7 linked regions of the Homo sapiens genome follow. The protein of the gene in region 6 purifies or fractionates together with the protein of the main gene of each other region. This does not show direct contact. Each region holds a gene or a part of one and is shown on either strand. Other genes may lie near its edges.

Region 1 (3,500 bases), on a different chromosome or scaffold from region 6:
AGAACTCAGTTACATTATTTGACTTTATGCACATAATCACAAAACAGGTATCTATCTATCACTCTTTAATGGTCAATTCCCAATACAAAAAAATAAAATTGAAATAACTACTTTTTGGCACTATTAATGTTTGTTTTTGTTTTAACCACAGAACAATAAAACCAATTCTAAGAGAAAAGGTCATTTAAACACTGAGTTTAAAAGAAACAAAGAAATCATTTTGAATAGACATTACCAGTTGTCAAAATAAATAATTACTTGGCTTCTCTCTACCGTTCCTGAAAAGGAGTCAGTATTACTGTATTCAGCCTACTTAATTTTTTTTTTTTTTTGAGACGGAGTCTCGCTCCGTCACCCAGGCTGGAGTGCAGTGGCGCAATCTCGCTCACTTCAAGCTCCGCCTCCTGGGTTCACGCCATTCTCCTGCCTCAGCCTCCCGAGTAGCTGGGACTACAGGCGCCCGGCTAATTTTTTTTTTTTTTTTTTTTGTATTTTTTAGTAGAGACGGGGTTTCACCGTGTTAGCCAGGATGGTCTCGATCTCCTGACCACGTGATCCACCCGCCTCAGCCTCCCAAAATGCTGGGATTACAGGCGTAAGCCACCGTGCCCGGCCCAGCCTACTTAATTTTTTAAAAGAGCAAAGAGGAAGTAGACTAATGAAGGTAAAACCAATGTTTTTATGACCTGACATACTAAGTTTGTCTCAACTACAAATGAAGAAGCCATAACAAAATTAGTTGCTCAATGAACAAGGAACTCAAAAATGGGGCAGGAGGTCCCTGTTACTCCTATTTATAAGGCCACTTACAAATACTCTAATTTGCCAGCTGTCACCAATACCTTTAGAGTATGATACAACTCAGTGTTTATTTTTGGCAATAATCCTGCAGGACAGAACTAATTTTTTTTTTTTTTAAGACAGTGTCTTACTCTGTCGCCCAGGCTGCAGTGCAATGGCACGAGCACAGCTCACTTGCAGCCTTGACCTCCTGGGCTCAATTGATCCACCTGCCTTAACCTCCCAAGTAGCTGGGACCACAGGCACGTACCACCACATCCAGCTAATTTTTAAATATTTTATGGAGACCAGGTCTTCCGATGTTGCCCAGGCTGGTCTCCAACTCCTGGGTTCAAGCCCACAAAAAAACCCTGCCTCCAAACCCTCAGTTTAGTTAATGAGGTCTTTAGTAGACAAACAATAGTTGAAGCCTCTTTCAAATTGGTCTGTCGCATAAAATACAAAACAGCTGAGACTGAATCTAGTTGCTCTTGTGCTAGTATACAAGTGACAAGGTTGAGATTCAGTGACAATGGCCTTCTAAAGTCACTACTTACTGATCTTTGAGATCGGTAAACTGTTTTTCAAGATTGGACATTTCATCCAAACATTCCATTCTTCTTCTTTCACAGTCTTCATCATCCATTTCTGTTAATAAAAAGGCAAATATAAAAGATAAACTTAATTTTCAAATTTATCTGAACATCTCAAATATATCTGAACGTAATTCAAATAGGAAGAAAAACTGTAATATGAAGAGAAGACCTATATTAAGCCTTAAAAGAAAATAAACAAGATTTATCAAAAATAATAATTTCTGCTGGGCGTAGTGGCTCATGCCTCTAATTCCAGCAGTTTGGAAGGCCAAGTCAGGAGGACAGATTGAGCCCAGGACTTCAAGATCAGCCTGGGCAACAGAGGAAGACCCCATCTCTACAAAATATAAAAATATTAGCTGGGCACGGTACCATGAGCCTGTAGTCTCACCTACCAGGAGGCTGAGGCAGGAGGATCGCCTGAGCCCAGGAGTTGGAGGCTGCAGTAAGCCATGATTGTGACACTGCACTCCACCCTGGGTGACAGAGTGACCTAGTCTAAAAAAAAAAAAAAAAAAAATCCACTATAGATTTAATCTAAAATACAGATGAGTATATAAAACTATACTGGTCTCTAGACCCTCTTACTTTTATTCATTTTTAAATCACTTTAAAGGACTGACTATAAGCTATAACTATAAAGTAATTAGCCCACATTTGGTTTGTTTTCCACCAACTCACCAGAATGTAGCACCAAAATGACTGTGTCCTTTAAAGGCTAACATTGCTCAAAAACATTTTTGGGATTCTTCTTTCAGAACTGCTCACATGGCTGATTTGCCTGTCACATAAAAAAAGAAAAGTGGCCGGGTGTGGTGGCTCATGCCTGTAATCCCAGCACTTTGGGAGGCTGAGGCTGGAGGATTGCTCGAGCTCAAGCGTTCAAGACCAGCCTGGGCAACATGGTGAAACCCCATCTCTAATAAAAATACAAAAATTAGCCAGACATAGTGGTGGATGCCTGTAGTCCCAACTGCTCGAGAGACCGAAGTGGGAGGATCGTTTGAACTTGATAGGCAGAGGTTGCAGTGAGCCAAGATTGCGCCAGCCTGGGCAACAGAGATCCTGTCTCAAAAATAAAAAGTGAAAGAAAGGCCAGGCATGGTGGCTCACTCCTGTAATCCCAGCACTTTGGGAGGCTGAGGCAGGCGGATCACCTGAGGTCAGGAGTTCGAGACCAGCCTGACCAACATGGAGAAAACCCATCTCTACTAAAAATACAAAATTAGCTGGGCGTGGTGGCACATGCCTGTAATCCCAGCTACCTGGGAGGTTGAGGCAGGAGAATCGCTTGAACCCAGGAGGTGGAGGTTGTGGTGAGCCAAGATCGTGCCATTGCACTCTAGCCTGGGCAACAAGAGCGAAACTCCATCTCAAAAAAAGGAAAAAAAAAGAAAAAGAAAAAGGAAAACTAATCTTATTATGTTTACCACAGGCTCTCCTGGTCTGCCATTCCTACGTTCCCTTATTCCGTCTACCCATATTACTATCAGTGAGAAAGAGGCAAATGAGGAGGAAAATACAAACTTTTTAAGGAAAGCAACTGTTAATTACCAGGTCTGTCCTATAGTCCACATTTTCTATGTTCATATCACATATATTCATTCATCAAAATAACTGAAGCACAAAATGATCTGCATCTTGATCTTCATCAAATAAAAGTCAAACTATGAGAAAGAGTTAAATCATGTTCAATTATTTTTATATAACATGGAAGGCTGACTCATTTTTTTCTCATTTTCTAAAACAGATTAAAAATACTTCTGGCTTTTGATTGCTTACTTCTTGGCTACTCAAAACTTGGTCCCTCAAGATGACTCACTATCCAAGTTCTCTGGATAGTAGAGGCTTTTCCGTAGCCTTAGAATTTGCTCAGCACCAACATTTGAGAAGAAAACACTGTGAAAGTTTAACATGAAAGACATATGGTAGAACAGAGATGCTTTAACAGAAGCAAACTGCAAAATTTATTTAAACAATTTCTTTGCACTTAAAATTTTGACTTGTAGTTCAAATTATTATCACATTCTTCAAAAATTAAGTTGTTCATTATTTTTTGGGATGGAATTTTTAAAAGTTAAAAATCACAAGAGTCAACATAAAAATTATAGGGGGAGAATTTTA
Region 2 (3,500 bases), on a different chromosome or scaffold from region 6:
CATCCCCAACCCGCCCACCACCACCACCACCACCACCTACCTCCATGAAGTCCTTCCTCTGGCTGGAGACCCGCAGGGCCGCCGGGAGGCTGCGGCTGGACTTCTGGTCCCAGTGCTGTGTGGGGGAGAGAGGAGGGGCTTGGGTGAGCCCGGGGGCTGCTGCACCCGACCCCAGGCCCCAGGACAGGGCTGACCCACTGGGCAGGGCTGCTGATGCTCCAGCACCCAGAACGCCTCGCCCTCAGGTCTGCCCTACACCGCCTAGGACTGGGGGCCGCAGCCGGGCCGCAGGCTCACCTGGCCCTGGTGGAACTGCTTGCCCGGGCTGGTCTCCTCGGGGTGGTAGAACCACTTGACGCGGACCACCATGTTGTTGCCCCACGACTCCCACATGCTCTGGATGCGGCCGATGTAGGGCAGGTTGGGGCGGCCGGCAGAGAGGAACACGGCACAGTCCCCGATACGGATCATCTCCTTGCCGCGCACGATGGCCTTGTAGAAGAGCTTGCGGGCCTTGCCCTTCATGCCACGCCGCTGCAAGGACACGTGTGTCACGGCACAGGCCCTGGCCCAGCCCCAAGGAGCCCGCCGCCTGGCAGGCTCTGCCGCTTGGGACTCTGGGCCCTCGGCCTCTAAATCAACCCCTATCCAACTGTGGGGAGATGAGGAAGCTCCTTGTCTCGCTTCAAGTGGGGAAGCCCCTCTTCCATCTCTTTGACATGCTGGGTCTCCAAGAGGCGCTTCCCTTGATCTAAGCATTCTGCCGCTACAAGACTTCTTATTTTTGAGACAGGGTCTCCCTCTGTTGCCCAGGCTGGAGCGCAGTGGCGCCATCATGACTCACTGCAGCCACGAACTCCTAGACTCAAGAAATCCTCTCCCACCTCAGCCTCTGAGGAGCTGAGAATACAGGCGCACACCACGCCCGGCTAATTTTGATTATTTTTGTAGAGAACAAGGTCTCACTATGTTGCCCAGGATGGTCTCAGACTTTTGGCCTCAAACCACCCTCCCACCTTTGCCTCCCAAAGCACTAGGATCGCAGTGTCAGCCACTGCACCTGGCCTTATTTTTCTTTTGAAAATTACTTTTTTCAGAGAAAGGGTCTTGCTCTGTCACCCAGGCAGGACTGCAGTGGTAATATCATAGCTCACTGCAGCCTCGATCTCCTGGGCTCAAGCCATCCTCCTCCCTCGGCCGCCTGAGTTGATGGGATTACAGGAATCCACGGCTAATATTTTTATTTTTGTAGAGATGGGGGTCTCACTATGTTGCCCAAGATGGTCTTGAACTTTTGGCCTCAAGTGATCCTCCCACATAAGCCACCCAAAGAGCTGGGATTACAGGCGTGAGCTACCACACCTGGCCTTTTTTATCTTTTAAAAAATAGTTATTATTATTATTATTCTTTTTGAGATGAAGTCTCACTCTATCGCCCAGGCTGGAGTGCAGTGGCACGATCTTGGCTCACTGTAGCCTCTGCCTCCCAGGTTCAAGCAGTTCTCCTGCCTCAGCCTCCCAAGTAGATGGGATTACAGGCGTGCACCACCACGCCTGGCTAATTTTTGTGTGTGTATTTTTAGTAGAGACGGGGTTTCACCATGTTGGCAGGGTGGTCTCGAACTCCTGACCTCAAGTGATCCTCCTGCCTGGGCCTCCCAGAGTGCTGGGATTACAGGTGTGAGCCACTGCGCCCGGCTAAAACTATTATTTTTTTCAAGACAAGGTCTCACACTATTGCCCAGGTTGGAGTGTAGTGGCACAATCACAGCTCACTGCAGCCTTGACCTCCCAAGCTTAAGTGATCCTCCCGCCTGGGCCTCCCAAAGTGCTGGGATTACAGACTTAAGCCACTGCACCTGGGCAAGAGAGACTTGAAACTCCATTCTAGAGCAGCTTTGGAAATGCTGCCTGAGACACCACTGACCCCTTCTGGAACATGCAGGTGCTCCTGCCCCACACCTACAGCACGTTGGGGGCTCCCTGCCAGCCTGTCTGAACCACCACTTCTCACACTGGGTCCTGCCATGTATATGTGCCTGTGTGTGCACATGTTCATCTGTGCATTTGTGCACGTGTTCATGTGTGTGCACGTGTTCGTGTGTGCACGTGTTTGTGTGTGTGCACGTGTACTCGTGTGCATGCACGTGCATGGATGCACGTGCACGCATGTATGTGCCTACGTTTGTGTACGTGTGCAAGTGTGCATTTGTGTGGGTGTAGTGTATTTGCATATGTGTGCATGTTCATGTTTACATGGTTCATGTACGTGCCTGCATTCACATGTACATCTGCATGTGTGTATACTTGCTTTTGTGTGTGGCTGTATGTGCATTCATGTGTACATGTGCACACATATGTGCGTGTGTGTGTGCATGTGCCCATGCTTTTGAGTGCACTGTGTGCAAGTGTGTGTGCGTGTGTGTAGACAGCCACAGGCAGGCTGGAAGGGCTCCTTCTGAACAGCTAACCCACTGCTGCAGGCAGGGCACACGGGACCCCGACCTGGCCAGCCAGGACTTTGTCTTCCAGGCCATATTGATTCACTCAGGGGTGGGCACATGATCCTGGCCAGGCCAAGGAGCTTCAATCTGGACTTTTGCTAGCAAACCTGGGAAGGAGGTACCTTCTGCTGGGACTGCCACACTAGTGGCCAGGAGCCCGGGGCGTGGCTGGGAACACTCAAATGCCACACACAACAGGCTGTCAGGCCCCGCACCTGGAATTCCAGCACTCTGGGAGGCTGAGGCGGGAGGATCACTTGAGCCCAGGGGTTCAAGACCAGCCCAAGCAACACAGTGAGACACTGTCTCTACAAAAATATTTAAAAATCAGCTGGGTAGCATGGTGGCACATGTCTGTAATCCCAGCTACTCAGGAGGCTGAGGCGGGAAAACTGCTTGGGCCCAGAAGTTCAAAGCTGCAGTGAGCCACGATGGCACCGCTGCACTCCAGCCTGGGTGACGGAGCAAGATCCTGTCTCTTAAAAAAAAAAAAAGAAAGAAAGAAAAGAAAAAGCCAGGCGTGGTGGCTCACACCTGTAATCCCAGCACTTTGGGAGTCCGAGGCAGGCAGATCACTTGAGGCCAGGAGAGTTTGAGATCATCCTGACCCACATGGGGAAACCCCCATCTCTACTGAAAATACAAAAATTAGCCAGGCGTGGTGGCGTGCGCCTGTAATCCCAGCTACTTGGGAGGCTGACGCAGGAGAATTGCTTGAACCCGGGAGGCAGAGGGTGCAGTAAGCCAAGATCACACCACCACACTCCAGCCTGGGCAACAGAGAGAGACTCAGTCTCAAAAAAAGAAAAAGGAAAAAATCCCAGAGGCCTGGAAAGCCCCTTCCACGTGGCGCCGACGCCTGTGGGTCTGTGCTGATCTTTGCACGTTTCCTTCATCTGGGCTCCACGAGGGTGGCTCTGCGTCCCGGGACCAGAGGGCAGGACCACTCTGCTCTGAAGGACTCGGGCATCGGAGTCCGACAGACCCAGGTGCCTG
Region 3 (3,500 bases), on a different chromosome or scaffold from region 6:
TGAGGTTCACTTCCTGCTTCATTCTGGCCAAATGATGAAATCTTTATAATTTCTAAAGAAAGATCTTTTGTCTTGCTTCGTCTTCCCTTTCCTTTTGGAGATTTTTCGGCTTCTTTCTTAACTTCTTCTGTTTTTTCCATTTTGTTCCCAAAAATCTGTACTATTTGTTCATTCTCTCCAACTTCTAACTTCAGGGTTTCTAAAGGCTGCATTTGAGTCCTATCATTTTCTTTTAATATATGTGCAGAAATCTTTGGATTTTCTTCATCTAGCTTATCATCATTCAAATTTTCATTTTTTTCTAGTTCATCTTTAAGAGAAAGTTCTTCATTTATTAAATTCTTTTCTAAAGCATCTTCTGTTTCACTATCAGATGAACAAGAGTCTGTAAGAGGAAATATTATTATATTATACAGGTTTTTATATTACCAATGTAATTTTACAATAAAAATCTTACCAAAAATAACAATAAAAATCTTTAATCATGTACCTCTGAATACCTCCCTGTAGAAATTTCTGAAATAAAACAAATCATAACATTTGTGCCAAGAATTTGAGGGGGAGGGGAAACTAAGCTCCAAGCAAAAATATATTACGTTGCATATTACTAACTCAAATCTATATGAAAAGCTATTTTGCAACATTCCCCAGTATCATATTTAGGTACAATAGTCCTTAAAAAAGATCAAAAGATTAGTACCTAGACATCCTAGACATGAAGTTAATTTGTTAAGTGGTTTGAGATAGTATCTAGGAAGGACAGATGATGGGCATTTTGTACCCTAAGAAAGGAATATGACATTCTACTTAAAATAACTGTGGAAAGAAAAGGTTTTTTCTTTTCTTTTCTTTTTTTTTTGAGACATAGTCTCACTTGGTTGCCCAGGCTAGAGTGCAGTGGCGTGATCTCAGCTCACTGCAAGCTCCGCCTCCTGGATTCAAGCATTTCTCCTGCCTCAGCCTCCTGAGGAGCTGGGATAGGCGCAGGCCACCACGCCCGGCTAATTTTTGTATTTTAGTAGAGATGGGGTTTTGCTATGTTGGCCAGGCTGGTCTCAAACTCCTGACCTCAAGTGATCCGCCCACCTCAGCCTCCCAAAGTGCTGGGATTATAGGCATGAGCCACCGTGCCCAGCAAGAAAAGTTTTTAAAATGGGCAATTGGAATCCTCAAAACTTTAAATATTCTTAACAGACAAGAAAGTACAGGAAACAAAAATTGTTCCCTGTAAGGGAACTTGTAAAATAGTAAAGTAGGGTTCTAAGACTGTATAGGATCTAAAAAATATAAAAATATTGTCCACATGGTGCTCAAATCCTCAAGAAGTTCAAAACTGCAAACATGAATTTTTTAGTGAAAAGGTGTATACAGTTTTATTTTGTGGTTTTATCATAAACAGAATGTAGAATTCATTTTCATGTTTTAAAAAATCCCTTTCAGTGGTAGTTTAATAAGGCTGGTATGTAGTTGTATAGACTGGACACTGCACACAGGTATGCCTTCTAAGAGGGTACCTTTCACTTTGTGGACATCTTAAACATTTGTCAGCAGATGGCAGTAAAGAGGAAGGATGTCCTTTTATAATTTGCACACAAGCACCATATGGACTAATAGCAAACATGTAGTTCAGTATAGCTTTTTTCTTGAAAGAAGAGAAATTTTTATATAAGACAACCATTTAAAATTTCTTTTTTGGTGGCCGGGCACAGTGGCTCACACCTGTAATTCCAGCACTTCAGGACGCTGAGGCGGGTACATCACTTGAGGTCAAGAGTGCGAGACCAGCGTGGCTAACATAGTAAAACCCTATTGCTGCTAAAAATACAAAAATTAGCCAGGTATGGTGGTGCACACCTGTGGTCCCAGCTACTTGGGAGACTGAGGTGGGAAAACTGCTTGAACCCAGGAGGTGGAGGTTGCAGGGAGCTGAGATTGCGCCACTATACTCCAGCCTGGGCAACAGAGTGAGGTGGGGTCTTGCTCTGCTACCCAGGCTGGAGTGCAGTGATGTGATTACACTTGCTGCAGCCTTGACCTCCCAGACTCAAGCAATCCTCCCACCTCAGCCTCCTGAGTAGCTGGGACCACAGGTGCACACCACCATGCCTGGCTAATTTTTAAATTTTTTTGTAAAGATGGGGTCTCACTATGTTGCCCTGGCTGGTCTGGAACTCCTGGGCTCAAGTGATCCTTTTGCCTCAGCCTCCCAAGGTGCTGGGATTACAGGCATGAACCACTGCACTCAGCCTAAAATTTCTTAATTACATTTAAAAGTATACAGAGGTAGAAAAGTGGGGGAAACGAGTACAAGCAGAATAAAATATGTTCACCTATACTCATTATAAAACATGCCTGCACCACAGTAGTCTGTGTTCTCTTAGAACCACATGGTCTCAGCTTTGCTGAAAGATCCCAGATGAACAGCATTGAATTTATAGGATACACTGGTACAGGCTTTGAGGGAAAGTGTAGCACACATTAGGATGCATGGATTGTCAATTCACCTTCTATTAAAATATATTATTTTCAAGATACTTATGAGAAAAAGTATTCCTAAATGAAAACATCACTAAATTTTAGATAAAAATGATACAGCAAAATATTTTCTTCAAATCAAATTTTATAGTTTAAATCATATGAGATTAAAATCCTAGGTGATTTACAGGTTGAACACCCCTAGTCCAAAAACCTGAAATCCAAAATGCTGCAAATTCCACAACTTTTTGGGCACCAACATGACACCACAAGTAAAAAATTCCAGACCTGACCTCATGGGACACATTGCATCCAAACACAGGTGCACAACAGTTTCTTCAGCAACCCCAAGCTAGTGTACGGGTAACCTTTTAATGAAAACACAGCATCGTAGGTGGAGACTGAAAGCCTGCTGTTTGTTTTTGCTGTTGTTTAGCAGCTGATACAGGTATTCTAGTGATGCTACCTTGCTGCTTAGTTTCCCCACACAATTTTTCCACTGTATTAATTGTAAGTCATATGTTTTACTGTTATGTAATTATGTGTGAATAAGTGTAAGAAAATTGCTTATCAGTAGCTGGCATATAAATTCAGAGTCAAGAATAACAGTGATGCCAAACAATCACAGACTGTTCACATGGGTGGCTGAGACAATTATACCTGTGATTTCTGATGGTTCAAATAACACAATCTTTATTTCATGAACAAAACTATTAAAAATATGGTATAAAATTACTTTCAGGCTATGTGTATAAGAAACACTAATTTTCATGTTTAGACTTGGGTCCTATCCCTAGGATATCTCATTATGTATATGCAATATTAAAAAAAAAAAATCAAAAACCAAAAACACTTCTAGTCCCAAGCATTTTGGGCAAGGGATACTCAACCTGTACTGTGAATATTTCACACAATGGAAGTTTTATTATTTATGTTATTGATTTTTTTTAAAGTCAGCCATCCTCAAAATTGAGCACCTTCCATTCCATTTGACAGAGGTGAGCTGTCTGGTATATTGCTGCGAG
Region 4 (3,500 bases), about 87 Mb from region 6:
GACTTAAAAGCGAACACCCAGAGTAAACAATGCAAGCTGGTCTATTACCTCTGGGAAGTGGTCTGGAACTTGGGAATGTGGCCACCTCCCAGATCCGCCTCCTTTGGAATCACTGAATGGTGGTGGCCTGAATGTCCACCATTGGTCCCTATTTGCTCCAAAGTAGAGGTGGCCAACATGCTTCCCAAAGCAGCCAACTTCCAAACCAACTGATCACCAGGTCCCTCCTGAACCGCAGTCTCTGAGACCTTCAAGGGATCCTCATGCACTACACGATGTCTTGGGGGAACCATTATCCCTAGATACCAAATCTATTAAATTATTTGAATTCTCTGAAAAGATAAGTCCTTAGATATTAAAGTGTTCAGGGCTCATACCTGTAATCCCAGCACTTTGGGAGGCTGAGGCAGGAGGATCACTTCAGCTCAGGAGTTTGAGGACAGCCTGGGCAACATAGCAAGACCTCATCTCTACTAAAAATCAAAAAAACATTAGCCAGGCATGGTAATGGAGGACTGTAGTCCCAGCTACTCGGGAGGCCAAAGTGGGAAGATCGCTTGAGCCAGGGGGATCAAGGCTCCAGTGAGCTATGATCACACCACTGCATGCCAGCCTGGGGGACAGTGAGACCCTGTCTCAAAAAAATAAAAAATGAAGTGTTCATATGGGGGGGCGGGGGCGGTTAAAGATGAAACCAAGAAGTATGTGACAACCTTAACATAAGAATTTACTTTTTAATTTCTAAAGAAAAATCAAAGGGGGGGGAAGAAATTTAAAAATATGTTTAGATATAAAATGTGCTACGAAGCAACATCAACAGGGTAGTAAAAATGTGCGTTTTTTTTTTAGGCCAATTAACCTGTTTTACAAGCTGCAACTCAGCTGCTGAAAAAAGATATTTAAATAGCCTCAAAGACTAAGCCCCAAATGTCAAACTGACTCTATTACTTTGTAACTAATGGAAATTCTGACCTGGGAATCTCTACAATTAAGTTCTTAAAGCTTTGAACCTCTACTATTAAACCGAACAAAACTAGAAATTACCACTACTGTACTATTTTCGAAAAGCAATTTCTTAAGAAGGTGGACACAAAAGTGGGGCGAGGAGGTAGGAAAATTAATTTAATTTTGTATCCTACTGAGAATCCTGGTATTAACACTTTATTTCCCCAATAAGTGAGTCCACGTTATAGCTACAGAACCTCAAGGAGTCCCAATTCTACTGGTAAATATTCACTGTTTTAAGTCTTTTGTGTCGACCGAAGGCTGAAGGGGAAAATGCTCTTGAGCAAGTGGGTGGCTTCGTTTCTGACTCACAGGCAGCCCCAGATTTAAAACAAGGAGAGAAAAACAGAAGTCCACCCGTACCATCAATTAGTTATTTTCAAATATCAGCTACTTTTTCACAGTATTTTTTGAGAGATCATTAGTCCAAATCAAAATGTGAGGCAAATTTACATAGCATGATATAGAATGCCTTAAAAGCAGTATAAGACCAAGGCAAAGGGAAGATCCTTATCTTTCAAAATGAAAGGGAGCTTGGCAAGTATTCACACCAAGATGCGATGCCTGAATCCCATTTGTTTTGCTGAAGTCATTTAAAACTCAGGAAGACATCTTCTGCCAAAAATACGGCTGCACCAAAATACTCCATACCCTCTGGAAAGAGCATAAAGCAATGTAGCTGACCTCTCAGCCACAGGCCACGTCTGCCAAAGAAAGAAAAACAAAACCTCCAAACTGATACAAAAGCCAAACATGAGCCTGGTGAGATGGGAGAGGCTGGCACTGCACCAGTGAACACCTCAGCCAGTATTCCCAGGAACACTTTTCAATTGTCATTGGGGAAGAGGGAGACCCACCTTCAACAACTGCATTATGATCTCTGACTGCCAAGGCCAAAAATGAAAAGTATACAGAATAGAGAAAAAAAACAACATTCTCAAAGTATATTTAACAAGAGAATAAGCAATTTCAATTTCACTGAAAAAGTAAAATGCATCCAGTGACATTATTTTCTAAATTTCTGCTGTTAATGTAAGAAAGATGGTGAAAATTCCTTCAAAATGCTTAGGAGTTCTAACACATCAAATCTGATCATTTTGTTTACATTAGGAAACACCAGACATTGTGGATCTCTTCTTTAAAAAAACAAGAATTTTATTTTACTGCATTTTCACCCTCAAGACATGTCTCGTAAAGTCTGAGGATTAAGCTTAGAAAGAGGAAGATTCAAAGCAACACAATTACAAAATGAACATCACTGGAAATATCACATGGCTTTAAGACTCATAGATTTGTAAAAATGTTAGTGATAAATCTCATCATTTTCAAAGATGGTTCTTATGTGTGGGCTTGATCTTTAAAGGTTATTTGGTTTTCATTATTAGAAACATTTTTCATCTCATTTTGCCCTTCTCAGTGTTAAGCTGTTAGAGCCTGCCACCTAGTGGCGATGTGTTCTGAGACATAATGTTAAGATATAACACAAACCGACCTTTCTGAAGAATGCCAAAGAACACCAACTCAGAGGGGAAGAAGTCATCAAGATCAGCCTTAGAGATAAAGCCAGCCTCCAGCATCTACTGGGCAATTAACTCACTGCAACTTAATAGGTGGAAATGATTTACTTCGGCCATGACTAGAACCCTAAGCATTTTTGACAAGTACAATGTTATCGGGTAACCAACCTAACACAATGCTGGGTTTTTTTAAGAATTCAAAATAAATAATCATTACCCCAATTTTGGAACTTTTGGTTAGATACTGAAACTCAAAGGGTCATTATATAGCCATTATAAATGATAATGAGACACCTTACAGTAACCCAGAAAAACATTCTCAATATAACCAAACAGAAAGGCAAAGCAAACCGTATGTCCACTATGCCTTAGAATGAATAGACTATGCCTGCATATGGATAAAGAATAAAAAGAAATATATCAGAATGAAAAGACCTGAGAAATGATGGCAGTATCCATTTCATATCTAGCAGAAAGCGTAATACAGAACAGAAGAAATGTTTGTTGAATGAACAAAAGTATGAGCTTTTAAGGTTCTTTCATACTGTTTTGCCATTACCTTTCCAATGAAAAATGCTAGGCGGTCTGAACGTTTCAAAGAGTCTTCAATGTAAACCAGGAATGCAGGACACAGTGGCTCATGCCTGTAATCCCAGCACTTTGGGAGGCCAAGGCAGTAATATCATGTGAGGTCAGGAGTTCGAGACCAACCTGGCCAACATGGCGAAACCTCGTGTCTACTAAAAATACAAAAACTAGCTGGGCATGGTGGCGGGTGCCTGCAATCCCAGCTACTCGGGAGGCTGAGGCAGGAGAATCGCTTGAACCTGGAAGGCGGAGGTTGCAGTGAGCCGAGATTACGCCACTGCACTCCAGCCTGGCGACAGAGCAAGACTCCGTCTCAAAAAACAAAAAACAAACTAGGAATGTTTTAGGATACAGTTCCCCCAAGCAAGTGTCCTTGACCACTTTTGCAGC
Region 5 (3,500 bases), on a different chromosome or scaffold from region 6:
CAGGAAGATTTGTTGTCAGAGTTTGGACAATTCCTACCAGATGCCAACAGCTCCGTGGTATGTTTTTTTAATAAGAATTACACTATTTACTATTATTATCTTAGATGAGTTGGAAAACTGTGCTCAGAAGGGGACTTTTCCTAGATGATATTTGTTTGCTTTGATAAGAGCATTAATCTCATTCATGTGTCTTAATCAGCTTTTAAGCAAAACAACTGCTGAGAAGGTTGATTCTGTGAGAAATGATCATGGAGGCACTGTCAAGAAGCCCCAACTGAACAACAAGCCGCAGAGGCCCAGCCAGAATGGCTGCCAGATCCGCAGACATCCTACAGGAACCACCCCTCCAGTTAAGGTGAGAATGGGCAGCAGCTGCTCATTTTGACACTCACAAGTATTTCTAATGGAGAGGTACTCTAGAGGTGGTCATGTGTTTTGTTGTTGTTGTTTTTTTTTGTTTTTTTGAGACCGAGTCTCGCTCTGTCGCCCAAGCTGGAGTGCAGTGGCACGATCTCGGCTCACTGCAACCTCTGCCTCCCGGGTTCAAGCGATTCTCCTGTCTCGCCCTCCCGAGTAGCTGGGACTACAGGCGCATGCCACCATACCGGGCTGATTTTTTTTTTTTTTTAGTGGAGACGGGGTTTCACCGTGTTAGCCAGGATGGTCTCGATCTCCTGACCTCATGATCTGCCCGCCTCGGCCTCCCAAAGTGCTGGGATTACCTGTGCCCGGCAGTCATGTGTTCTTAAGTGTGTTAACGGTTGGGTCCTAGATATTTGGAGGAAGTTAGTATTGTGTCACAGAAACTCAGTGCAGAGTTTATCTGGCTTTGCAAAAGAGTATTAGAATAACATTGATTGCTTGGATTACTGTACTTTTCTGAGTTCTTTATTATCTCTCCTTTGCAATGAGCTGTCATTTCTTTAATGTTTTGGTTGCTACTAAGAATTTCCAATACTTGAAATTTTTTTCCCTTCTTTTTTTTTTGAGATGGAGTCTTGCTCTGTCGCCCAGGCTGGAGTGCAGTGGTGTGATCTCAGCTCACTACAACCTCTGCCTCCCGGGTTCAAGCAATTATCCTGCCGCAGCCTCCTGAGTAACTGGGACTACAGGCGTGTGCCACCACGCCCAGCTAATTTTTGCATTTTTAGTAGAGATGGGGTTTCGCCATGTTGGCCAGGCTGGTCTTGAACTCCTGACCTCAGGTGATCCACCCACCTCGGCCTCCCAAAGTGCTGGAATTACAGGCGTGAGCCACCGCGCCTGGCCCCTTCTTCTTTGATGCTTTAAATCTGCCTTGTGTTAAGAAAGAACATTCTTGAGCTTGAGAATTATTTCAGAAATAAGTGGTCTCTGAGGTCCTCTTGTGAGTAGAGTGCATGTGTTTTTTGAGATCTCTGGTCTAGAACCCTGTCCTGCTCAAAGTTCTTTGTTGGGTTACCAGATCTTATGTGTATCATCTTAATCTCCAAGGCAGGACCTTTGGGCTGTAGCAGAGGGAAGTCTTAAACTCCTCTTAGTAATCCATTACATGATGTTTTTTGTTATAGTTAACACTGATGGTCTGCCTGCAGAAAACTTAGCTTGCTCCCTTCTTTGATGTAACACAGCTATGATAGGGAGAGGGCTAGTTGTATGTATTGAATGTTTAATTCTTCAGTGAATTTCAAAGCAGTATGTAATATAGAAGAGACAGATATGTCTGCAGAATTAAATAATGACAAAAGTTTGGGAATTTCTAATAGTAAGAGGTGGCTGATGAATAGTGATTGACTGACTACAAGGTCTGACGTACTAGGTGTTACTGACACTTTTGAAGTATCCTTTTCATTAGTGTTTGTCATGGTTTCTTCTTTTGAAATCTTTTGAAATCAAGTTGAACATAATAATGGTTTCTATTTCTTCATTTCAATAAAGAGAATTAGTTATATGGGTAGCAAGAATCAGCTCAGTAGATACACTCCATGCTTGGATTTACGTCCGCCCACTCTTGATTACCTACAGGTGGCAAGAATATAGTGGGGGCTTAAAATTCTCCGCCTACTTTCTCCATAGGCAGTGTAAGCAGAGGCTGCGGCTCTTAAGAAAGTATACTCTGAGATAGCCAAGGTAAATGTGCTACTTCTCACAAAGTTTGTGCATTTCTTCATAGAGAGTAAGTGGTGGATTTTAAAAGTAACTTCTTGCCTGACAGGATTATATCATGGCCTGTTGGTTCCCTTTAGAAGAACAATATTAAATTAGTCTGAGTGGATATTGCTGGCGTGCCTTTTTTTTTTTTTTTTTTTTTTTTTTTTTGAGATGGAGTCTCACTCTGTTGCCCAGGCTGGAGTGCAGTGGCGTGATCTCGGCTCACTGCAGCCTCCACCTCCTGGGTTCAAGCGATTCTTCTGTCTCAGCCTCCTGAGTAGCTGGGACCATAGGCGCACACTACCACGCCCAGCTAATTTTTTTGTATTTTTAGTAGAGACGGGGTTTCACCATGTTGGCCAGGATGGTCTCAATCTCTTGACCTCATGATCTGCCCACCTTGGCCTCCCAAAGTGCTGGGATTACAGGCATGAGTCACCATGCCCAGCAAATTATGCTTTTTAAGTAAATTTTTAATTGAAATATTATTCAGGGTTAAAGATTGATTTCTGTCAATTTGTGAGCTCTTTTTACAAACAGCCTTTTCTCCCTCAGCTGGTAGGAGAACAAAACAGTGGCATTAGATTCTACATGAAGTTACTTTGGGCCCCTAGAAAAAGTAAGGATATTCTAAAAGTTTGTCACAGTAATGTCATGATCATTTCTGGAGAAAATATTTTGGGGGTAGAATGATCTTTGAACCTCTGTTGTAGAAAGAAACTTAATAGGCAAACTGAAATAGAAAATATGAGTTGAAATCTTAGAGGGTATGGAGTGAGTTGGTTAGAGTTCTCTCATTTGTTTCAAATTATTAATCAGCAGTGGTTTCAGTGATGAAACCATTGAATACAGACAAAAATAAAATTCAGAGAAAACCACTCGTTGAATCTCACATGTTTGTATCTTTCTTTTGCAGAAGAAACCCAAACTGCTCAATCTGAAGGATTCTTCTATGGCAGATGCCAGCAAACATGGTGGTGGAACAGAATCGTTATTTTTTGATAAGGTGAGTAATGGATGAGTTAGATTTGATAGTGCCTGTTAATGCCAAAAGAAAATCATCTTATCCCCCTGGAAGGTTTCGTTTTAAAGGTGTCAGGCTAATTAGGACTTTCTGTTTTTTAACATAGTTTCCCAGTTGTGAGTCCTTTGAGTCTGCTAGTACTATTAGCATAGCTAGAAAAATGGTAGCATTGTTTGCTTTGGTTTTATGAAGCAGTTTGGGGCAGAAGACAGATTTTTAGAAAATGTATTATGTTTCTCTTGAAAGATGTTTGGAGCTCCCATTGTAGATATCCAGGTCTGTGTGGCAGGCAGTACCAGTGCCTGTACCAATTTTTGAGGATTTAAGATGACTTGTAATCTTTTTT
Region 6 (3,500 bases):
CAAGAGCAAAAATTCATCTCAAAAATAAAAAATAAAAAAAAAACCATGCCATAATTATAGCTCTGACCAAATAAACTGAATATCCCAAAGTTAAAAAAGATTAAAGGTAATAGCTAAGTCAGCAAAAGCAATTTAAAAAGATAACTAATTATATGGACAATATATATAAACAAAAAAATAAAGTTTTAAAACACAACAATCAATTCTAAACATCTGTTTTGGCTGATTTGTAGGGTTTTCTTCTACTTTAAAGCTGTGGGTTTCATATAAATTTAATGATCTTAATGAATCTAACTTAATGAATCTAACCTTGGTGCTGATGAGTCAAGAAAGGGATGAGATAACCACAATATATCAAAGACACAAAAGGGACAATTCTAATCCCATCTAATGAAATTGGGAAGCCAAAGATCAAGAATAACGTCTAATTTTACATCTAATTAAACACATAAGTTTACTGAATATAATAATATACATAGGAAAGAAAAAGAGTTTCACAGCGATAGTTTATATTAAAGACGCTATTTAAGAAAAGTTTTCTGATAAATAAGATTAAAGATTATCTCTTATAAATCTCAGCAATACTAAATACTTGTTCATTTTAAGCTCCAACCAGGAAACAGAATGAAAAATACTGAAATGCAAATTTTAGAGCTTTAGTACCCTTTTTAATATGGAATAGGAGACAGAGAAAAGGTGATGAATTTAATTCAACTATTTTCTTGTCTTTTTAAATCTTTATAAGGGTGTTAACTCACATTTAAGGATATGGAGAGGGTTCTTATTACGATGAATTTAACATATGTTAAGTTCACCTTAGTTGGCATGCATGCTTTGAAGGACATCATTATTTACTCTAACTTCCCCAATTCCACTTTCTAGATTCCTTCTTCTGGCTTTTTTATATATTCAGAAGTAAAGCGTTTTTTAATATTCAAAAGTACCTTTCAAAACTCAGTAATACCACTGGGTGGACTAGATGGAAGAAAATTGAGAGCAATAGTCAAACGTGGTAAATAACAGTTAACTTCACAACTGTCCAAGTCATCTTGGGAACTGAAATTCTGATATGCACAAATTAGGGGAACAACCTCCCAAATGAAACTATCCTTAAGTTTCCAATAAACCAAAACCCTAGCTTCTAATTATCATTTTTTTCTTTCTAAAAATCAACTGGCCTAAGTCTTTAAAAACAAAAAAAAAACACAAGATAGTTGAAGTGACTTAAATGTCAACGAATTTTCAGACTGGTTAAATTATGGTTGAAACACCACAGCACGCTGTTTCAACCTTTAAAGCAAGTTGAACAGTAGTAATACAGTATAATCTCACAGGATGTTTTTAAAATGAGACTGTAACTACACAAACTTCTTTTTAAATTGGTTCTTAAAAATAGTAAATAGTGGTTGCCTCTGAGGAGTACAAGCATAAAAGAAGCTTACTTTCACTTTACTACCTCCTGCTTTTTTTTTTTTAACCAAGAGCATCACTCTCCAATAACCTTGGTTATCAAGACACACCTTAAGAGTAATCTAAAAAAGCACAGAGAGCTTAAATAAACTTCCTCAAAGACATACAGATGGAGAGATACAAATTAGAAAATACACTCCATGGGAGAGACTACGAAATAGACTGGTAAGATCTAAATACACACAGAGCAGAATGGGAAGGAAACTGCAGACAGGAGACAAGCGAAAGATTTGTAAAGTGGGAAGGAAGCAGCAGTGAACAAAGACAAAAAGAACTAAGCAACCAAAGACAACTTTGAAGTGAAGGAGATGCATTTCTTTAGAGCCAAACTAGAAATCATGATGATGGGAAAGGAAAAGAAATAACACGAAAAAATACTCGCGATCACAAACTGTGGGGATACTTGAGTTCCTGTAATTGGTAATGCCACCACTGACACCATTTTAGTCAATCATATGCTATCATTAATCACATTTAAGTACAGCATCCAGTAAACACTAACAGTGTAACTGGAGCAACACTTTTCACAAACGGTCAACAGGACTAAATGCTTTGTATTCTCCCGCGGCTAGGCTATTTGGCTGCAGTATTCCCCAATAATGAGACATGTTTCATCTGCAGTTAAGGAAACCCATGGAGCAGTAAGACATTATTTCCTCTTACCTGCTTCTAGATAGCAGCCTACATCTCAGCAAAATTCCTGAATTTAGCTAACTTTAAGGGATAAATGTAAATCTGTCTAGAATAAAACTGAGAAAGGGGTAGCAGACCCCACTTGTTTGCCAACAGCCTCTTCAAACATGTGCCCTGTCTCTGAGAAATTATATGGTAAAGCATTTATAACTGTGGCTGTCTATGGAATCCACACTTGGCAGAAGAGCCTAAAACTCATCCTATATAGGAAAGAGGTCAAACTCAGAAATAAACAAGTCTTCAACTGAAATGGCATAGGTTAAAAATAAAATTACAAATTCAAGTCTCTGGGCTTTAGATAGTGTAAAACACCAGGCCCCTCCAATTTTGGTAGAGCGAAAAAAAAAAAAAGAGAAACAAAACTAGGTCTCCCAATTCTAGATTAAGAGGAATTCCAGTACATGAAAAAAAAAACTGAAAGTGTCAGAAAGAATATTTATTTGCTTTTAATGGATGATTATGAGTTAGAAAATATAACCATACTTGGGTCTGCAATGAGTCAATTTGGAGTATATTTCTGCTTCTGTCTTTACAACTAAATAGGAAGTCACTCCTAATTTTATTTGCCCTTCTGTAACATTGGGAAATTCTGTTTATTTCCTTGAATTTATAAGAGTTGCACATTACAGAAAAATAAATGCTATCTATCCCAAGATATATACAACAAATTTAACTGAAGGTAAAATTCTGATTACTAAAGATTTTCTTTTAAGCCCAGGTCTGTGGGAAAAGAGGAACTTAGCCTTTTCAGGGAGACTTTAAGGTCATGAAAAGCCCCATATACTCCTCTATGAAGCTGTTCTCCCATTTTCAAACTTGAGAAAAATGTTAAGAAAATGGATACATGATAGTATACACACCTGATTTGACCCAAACCTCAGGAAAGTTCCTTAACCTCACTAATCCTGTTTCCTCATCTATAAAATAATGACAGGCCGGGCACAGTGGCTCACGCCTGTAATCCCAGCACTATGGGAGGCAGAGGCAGGTGGATCACCTGGTCAGGAGTTCGAGACCAGTCTGGCTAACATGGTGAAACACCGTTTCTACTAAAAATACAAAAAATTAGCCCAGCCTGGTGGCGTGCGCCTGTAATCCCAGCTACTCAGGAGGCTGAGGCAGGAGAATTGCCTGAACCCAGAGGCAGAGGTTGCAGTGAGCCAAGATCGCACCACTGAACTCCAGTTTAGGCAACAAGAGCAAAGCTCAGTCTCAAAATAATAATGACAAATCCAAATCTCCTGAATAGTATCTGTAAAGCATCAACACAACATCAACACAAAGATCGGCACAAGGTATGCACTCAGCTCTGACAATTCTTTTTACTCACCAATCTT
Region 7 (3,226 bases), on a different chromosome or scaffold from region 6:
CTGTGTTCCTGCAGAGGTAAGAGGCCCTGAGATGCATGCTCTGTTCCTTCCTTCCTGGGCCCAGGGAGTGTCCCCTTTGTCCTGACGGGGGCTGGACCATGGCACACTGTCTGGGAGCACTTAGTAGGTGCCTGCTGTGTGCTGAGGCAGGCCCTGCCCTTTTGAGGCTTGTGGTTTGCAGTGGAGGGATTAGTAACCCCAGGACGGTGAGGTGTAGGAGGGGCAAGGCCAACCCCACGATGCGTCAGTGGGTGAAGAGTGAATGCCCGGACTGGAGGGAGACGCTGCCAGAGCTGGTGGGGCCAGGCCAGAGGCGGGTGGCTGTGGCAGGACCCTGGACCACCTCAGGTCGGGCTAGGATGGCACCTATGGGACCAGTGGGGGCTGCTGGTGGGTGTTCAGATCTGGGGGCATTTCTTGTTGCTTCCATTTGCTTTCTGTGGACCCCTGGGAGGTAGCACATCTTCTGATGGTCCCAGGCCTGGGGGTTTCCCAGCCTGCAAATCCTCCTCCCACAATGCCGAGAGCCAGAGTCCATTCCACCTCCTTTCGCCCCCAGGAACCTCAAGAAGTTCCGCCGCCGGTGGCAGAGCGAGCAGGCGCGGGCCCTGCGCGGTGAGGCCAGGAGCTCCTGGAAGCGGCTGGTGGGCGTGGAGAGCGCCTGCGACGTGGACTGCCGCTTCAAGCTCAGCACTCACAAGATGGTGTTCATCGTGAACTCCGAGGACTACATGTACCGTCGCGGGACCCTCTGCCGGGCCAAGCAGGTGCCAGGGGAGGCCTGGGCTGCCCCGACATGCCCCTCCTCACCCCAAGTCCTGGGGCCCTGGGGGTCCAGCCCTCAGCTGCCCTGACACCCGGCCTCTTCAACAGGTGCAGCCCCTGGTCCTGCTCCGCCACCACCAGCACTTTGAGGAGTGGCACAGCCGCTGGCTGGAGGACAATGTGACGGTGGAGGCGGCTAGCCTGGTGCAGGACTGGCTGATGGGTGAGGAGGACGAGGACATGGTACCCTGCAAGACGCTGTGTGAGACAGTGCACGTGCACGGCCTGCCCGTGACCCGCTACCGCGTGCAGTACAGCCGCCGCCCGGCCTCGCCCTGACCCGCCCTCATGGGCACCGGGCAGGCGCCTCACAGAGCACAGACGTGCCCTCGGCCTTGGTCGTGTCGGGGCCGTTTTCTTGAACGACGTGAGAGGCATCTCCCAGCCCCTCTGCTGCCGGACAGCGCACTCCAGGGCAGGACGCCGCCCCCGTGGCTCCCGGTCTCCTGTGGGCCTGCTGTGTGCCAAACCTGAGCTACCTGCACCCGAGCCCTGGGGCTCAGCCCCACCACAGGGGCGGGTGGACGTGCTGGCCGAGGAACAAGCAATCATGTTTGCGTCCCCGTCCGTCACATGTGCCAAATCCCTGGCAGGCAGATGGCTCCTGCCCCATATTCTTGCCGTGTCTTGGAAAAGTCACAGGTGACAGCCCTCCTGAGGCCCACACTTTGGAGGGGGTCCATGTCCAAGAGACCCTGACAAGGAAGGAGTTGAGCCCTGGGTAGGCTTGCTTGAAAAGTGAGTCCTTCCAGAATATTCTCAGAGCTGCCAGAAACATCATCTGAGGGTTTGGGCATCAGCTCTGCCTGGCTGGTGTTCAGGCCCTCAGTCACTTTGGAAGTGAGAAGAACCCTTCAGCCAAACCTTTGGGATCCCATTTTGAAGTCCAGAGCTGGAGCAGGCGGGCAGTGCCCTGGGAGACCCCGCTCTGGATAAGACACCCAACCCCAACTCCAGCAGCTGGACTCTGGGCCCACAAGGGGAGGGACCCCAGCCAGTATTCCCTCAGAGCCGGCACGACCCTGCTGTGGGGCGGCGGGCCCAGTCGTGTTCCTGCAGTGGGCACCCTAGGCGTATGTGTATACACGCACAGATATTTATTCCTTTCGCTTTTAGTGGTTGTTATTTCTGTAGCAGCCAAGTCCTGCGGCTCCCTGGGGCTGAGATCTCCCTTTGTGGAACTCCGAGAGCCGCCCTGACAGTCCCAGCCGCCACCCAAGGAGCCCCATCCGCCCACCCACCCTGGGACCCACGCGGCCACTCCAGGGATCATTGTTGTCCTTTTGTGAGGGGCTGAGGCGACTGTCCCATGGAGGCATCCAAGGCTTTCTGTGCCAAGAATCCCAAGTGACTGGGGCTGGGGACCACTTCTCCAGGCCTCTCTCCCCGACCATGAGAGCCCCTGGCCCTGGCCCCTGCACACCAGTAGGCCCAGAATAACCGCCACCCTTGCCATCCTGCAACAGCTGGACTCAAGTTTCCAGGAAGTGGAGATGTGTTTCTAGAAGTTTCCTGTGGAACCTGGAGGCTCCTGATGCCTTTGACTCCAGGCTGGGCGATTCCGATGCTGACCCGTCCTCCTGGGCTCCCCACCCCCGCTCCCCAAGTGTCACACAGGCACTTTGTACACATCCTGGTTTTCTAAGAAGGGAACTTGCCATCAAGATTCCTGTACCAGGCCCACGGCCGTCTCGGGCAGAGCCACCTGGGCCCCGGGTGCAGCCGGAGACCCCGCCGAGCCCCTCCTCCCAGTATTCCCATCCCCGCATGCTTCTAGGGAGCGCCTCTTTTCCGTTCTTGAGGAATTTCTGTTCTGGGGCTTGTCCTTCCTTTGCAGCTGTTTTGAATGTAGTTTTCCTTTTCTATTTATTTGCACATTAAAGTTAATAATTGAATATTGACATCAAGCCGTGAGGGTGTGTTGGTCTTCCTGTGAGAGCCTTGCTGACTTCCTGCCACCAGGTCAGTGGGCTGGACCCATGAGAGCAAGGGGTGGCTGGGTGTGCCTACCTGGGACCAGGGGAGTCGAAGCCCCTCCTTGAACCAAGATCATCTCACACCCTGCACCTGCCCCGCCACGACATGGGAGTGTCTTCTAGAATATTCTTTCCCCATTCCATTTGCACATTTAGTGGGAATTAGAAGCGTCTCCTTCGCCCGAGTGTCTCTCATGCAGAACCCAATTTAAAGATCATGGTGTTTGCTCTAAGGTGTTTGTTCTAAGCTTCCCATGCCCAACCTATCCGTCCAGGCCCATGCCTGCCCACCCACCCCACACGACCACCCTCTGTACTCCTTGGGGCCCCACCCACTTCCTGGCTTTCACCATCATTTTCTCCTCATCTCCTGCCCCCTGTCTGCATCCCAAGCTCCACACCTGCTTCCGGGTAGCAGAAGCCCC

The links.
Region 1: the proteins of SINHCAF (region 6) and BRMS1L purify together in Homo sapiens (affinity purification with mass spectrometry; 4 studies listed by BioGRID and IntAct, with this or other methods). This does not show direct contact.
Region 2: the proteins of SINHCAF (region 6) and TNRC18 purify together in Homo sapiens (affinity purification with mass spectrometry; 4 studies listed by BioGRID and IntAct, with this or other methods). This does not show direct contact.
Region 3: the proteins of SINHCAF (region 6) and ARID4A purify together in Homo sapiens (affinity purification with mass spectrometry; 4 studies listed by BioGRID and IntAct, with this or other methods). This does not show direct contact.
Region 4: the proteins of SINHCAF (region 6) and SUDS3 purify together in Homo sapiens (affinity purification with mass spectrometry; 4 studies listed by BioGRID and IntAct, with this or other methods). This does not show direct contact.
Region 5: the proteins of SINHCAF (region 6) and SIN3A purify together in Homo sapiens (affinity purification with mass spectrometry; 5 studies listed by BioGRID and IntAct, with this or other methods). This does not show direct contact.
Region 7: the proteins of SINHCAF (region 6) and SIN3B purify together in Homo sapiens (affinity purification with mass spectrometry; 4 studies listed by BioGRID and IntAct, with this or other methods). This does not show direct contact.

Annotation. Positions count from the first base shown.
Region 1 is NC_000014.9:35,829,338-35,832,837, reverse strand, and holds part of BRMS1L (breast cancer metastasis-suppressor 1-like protein), read right to left. Parts: intron 3,044-3,500; exon of another isoform or gene 2,931-3,043; intron 2,158-2,930; exon of another isoform or gene 2,058-2,157; intron 1,429-2,057; coding exon 1,338-1,428; intron 1-1,337. UniProt on the Homo sapiens protein: Involved in the histone deacetylase (HDAC1)-dependent transcriptional repression activity. When overexpressed in lung cancer cell line that lacks p53/TP53 expression, inhibits cell growth.
Region 2 is NC_000007.14:5,308,835-5,312,334, forward strand, and holds part of TNRC18 (trinucleotide repeat-containing gene 18 protein), read right to left. Parts: intron 535-3,500; coding exon 298-534; intron 116-297; coding exon 41-115; intron 1-40.
Region 3 is NC_000014.9:58,361,055-58,364,554, reverse strand, and holds part of ARID4A (AT-rich interactive domain-containing protein 4A), read right to left. Parts: coding exon of another isoform or gene 3,453-3,500; intron 386-3,452; coding exon 1-385.
Region 4 is NC_000012.12:118,404,055-118,407,554, reverse strand, and holds part of SUDS3 (sin3 histone deacetylase corepressor complex component SDS3), read right to left. Parts: intron 1-3,500.
Region 5 is NC_000015.10:75,406,691-75,410,190, reverse strand, and holds part of SIN3A (paired amphipathic helix protein Sin3a), read left to right. Parts: coding exon 1-57; intron 58-199; coding exon 200-355; intron 356-3,046; coding exon 3,047-3,136; intron 3,137-3,500. UniProt on the Homo sapiens protein: Acts as a transcriptional repressor. Corepressor for REST. Interacts with MXI1 to repress MYC responsive genes and antagonize MYC oncogenic activities. Also interacts with MXD1-MAX heterodimers to repress transcription by tethering SIN3A to DNA.
Region 6 is NC_000012.12:31,316,151-31,319,650, forward strand, and holds part of SINHCAF (SIN3-HDAC complex-associated factor), read right to left. Parts: intron 1-3,500. UniProt on the Homo sapiens protein: Subunit of the Sin3 deacetylase complex (Sin3/HDAC), this subunit is important for the repression of genes encoding components of the TGF-beta signaling pathway.
Region 7 is NC_000019.10:16,877,624-16,880,849, forward strand, and holds the end of SIN3B (paired amphipathic helix protein Sin3b), read left to right. Parts: coding exon 1-16; intron 17-559; coding exon 560-767; intron 768-873; coding exon 874-1,104; 3' UTR 1,105-2,726; downstream 2,727-3,226.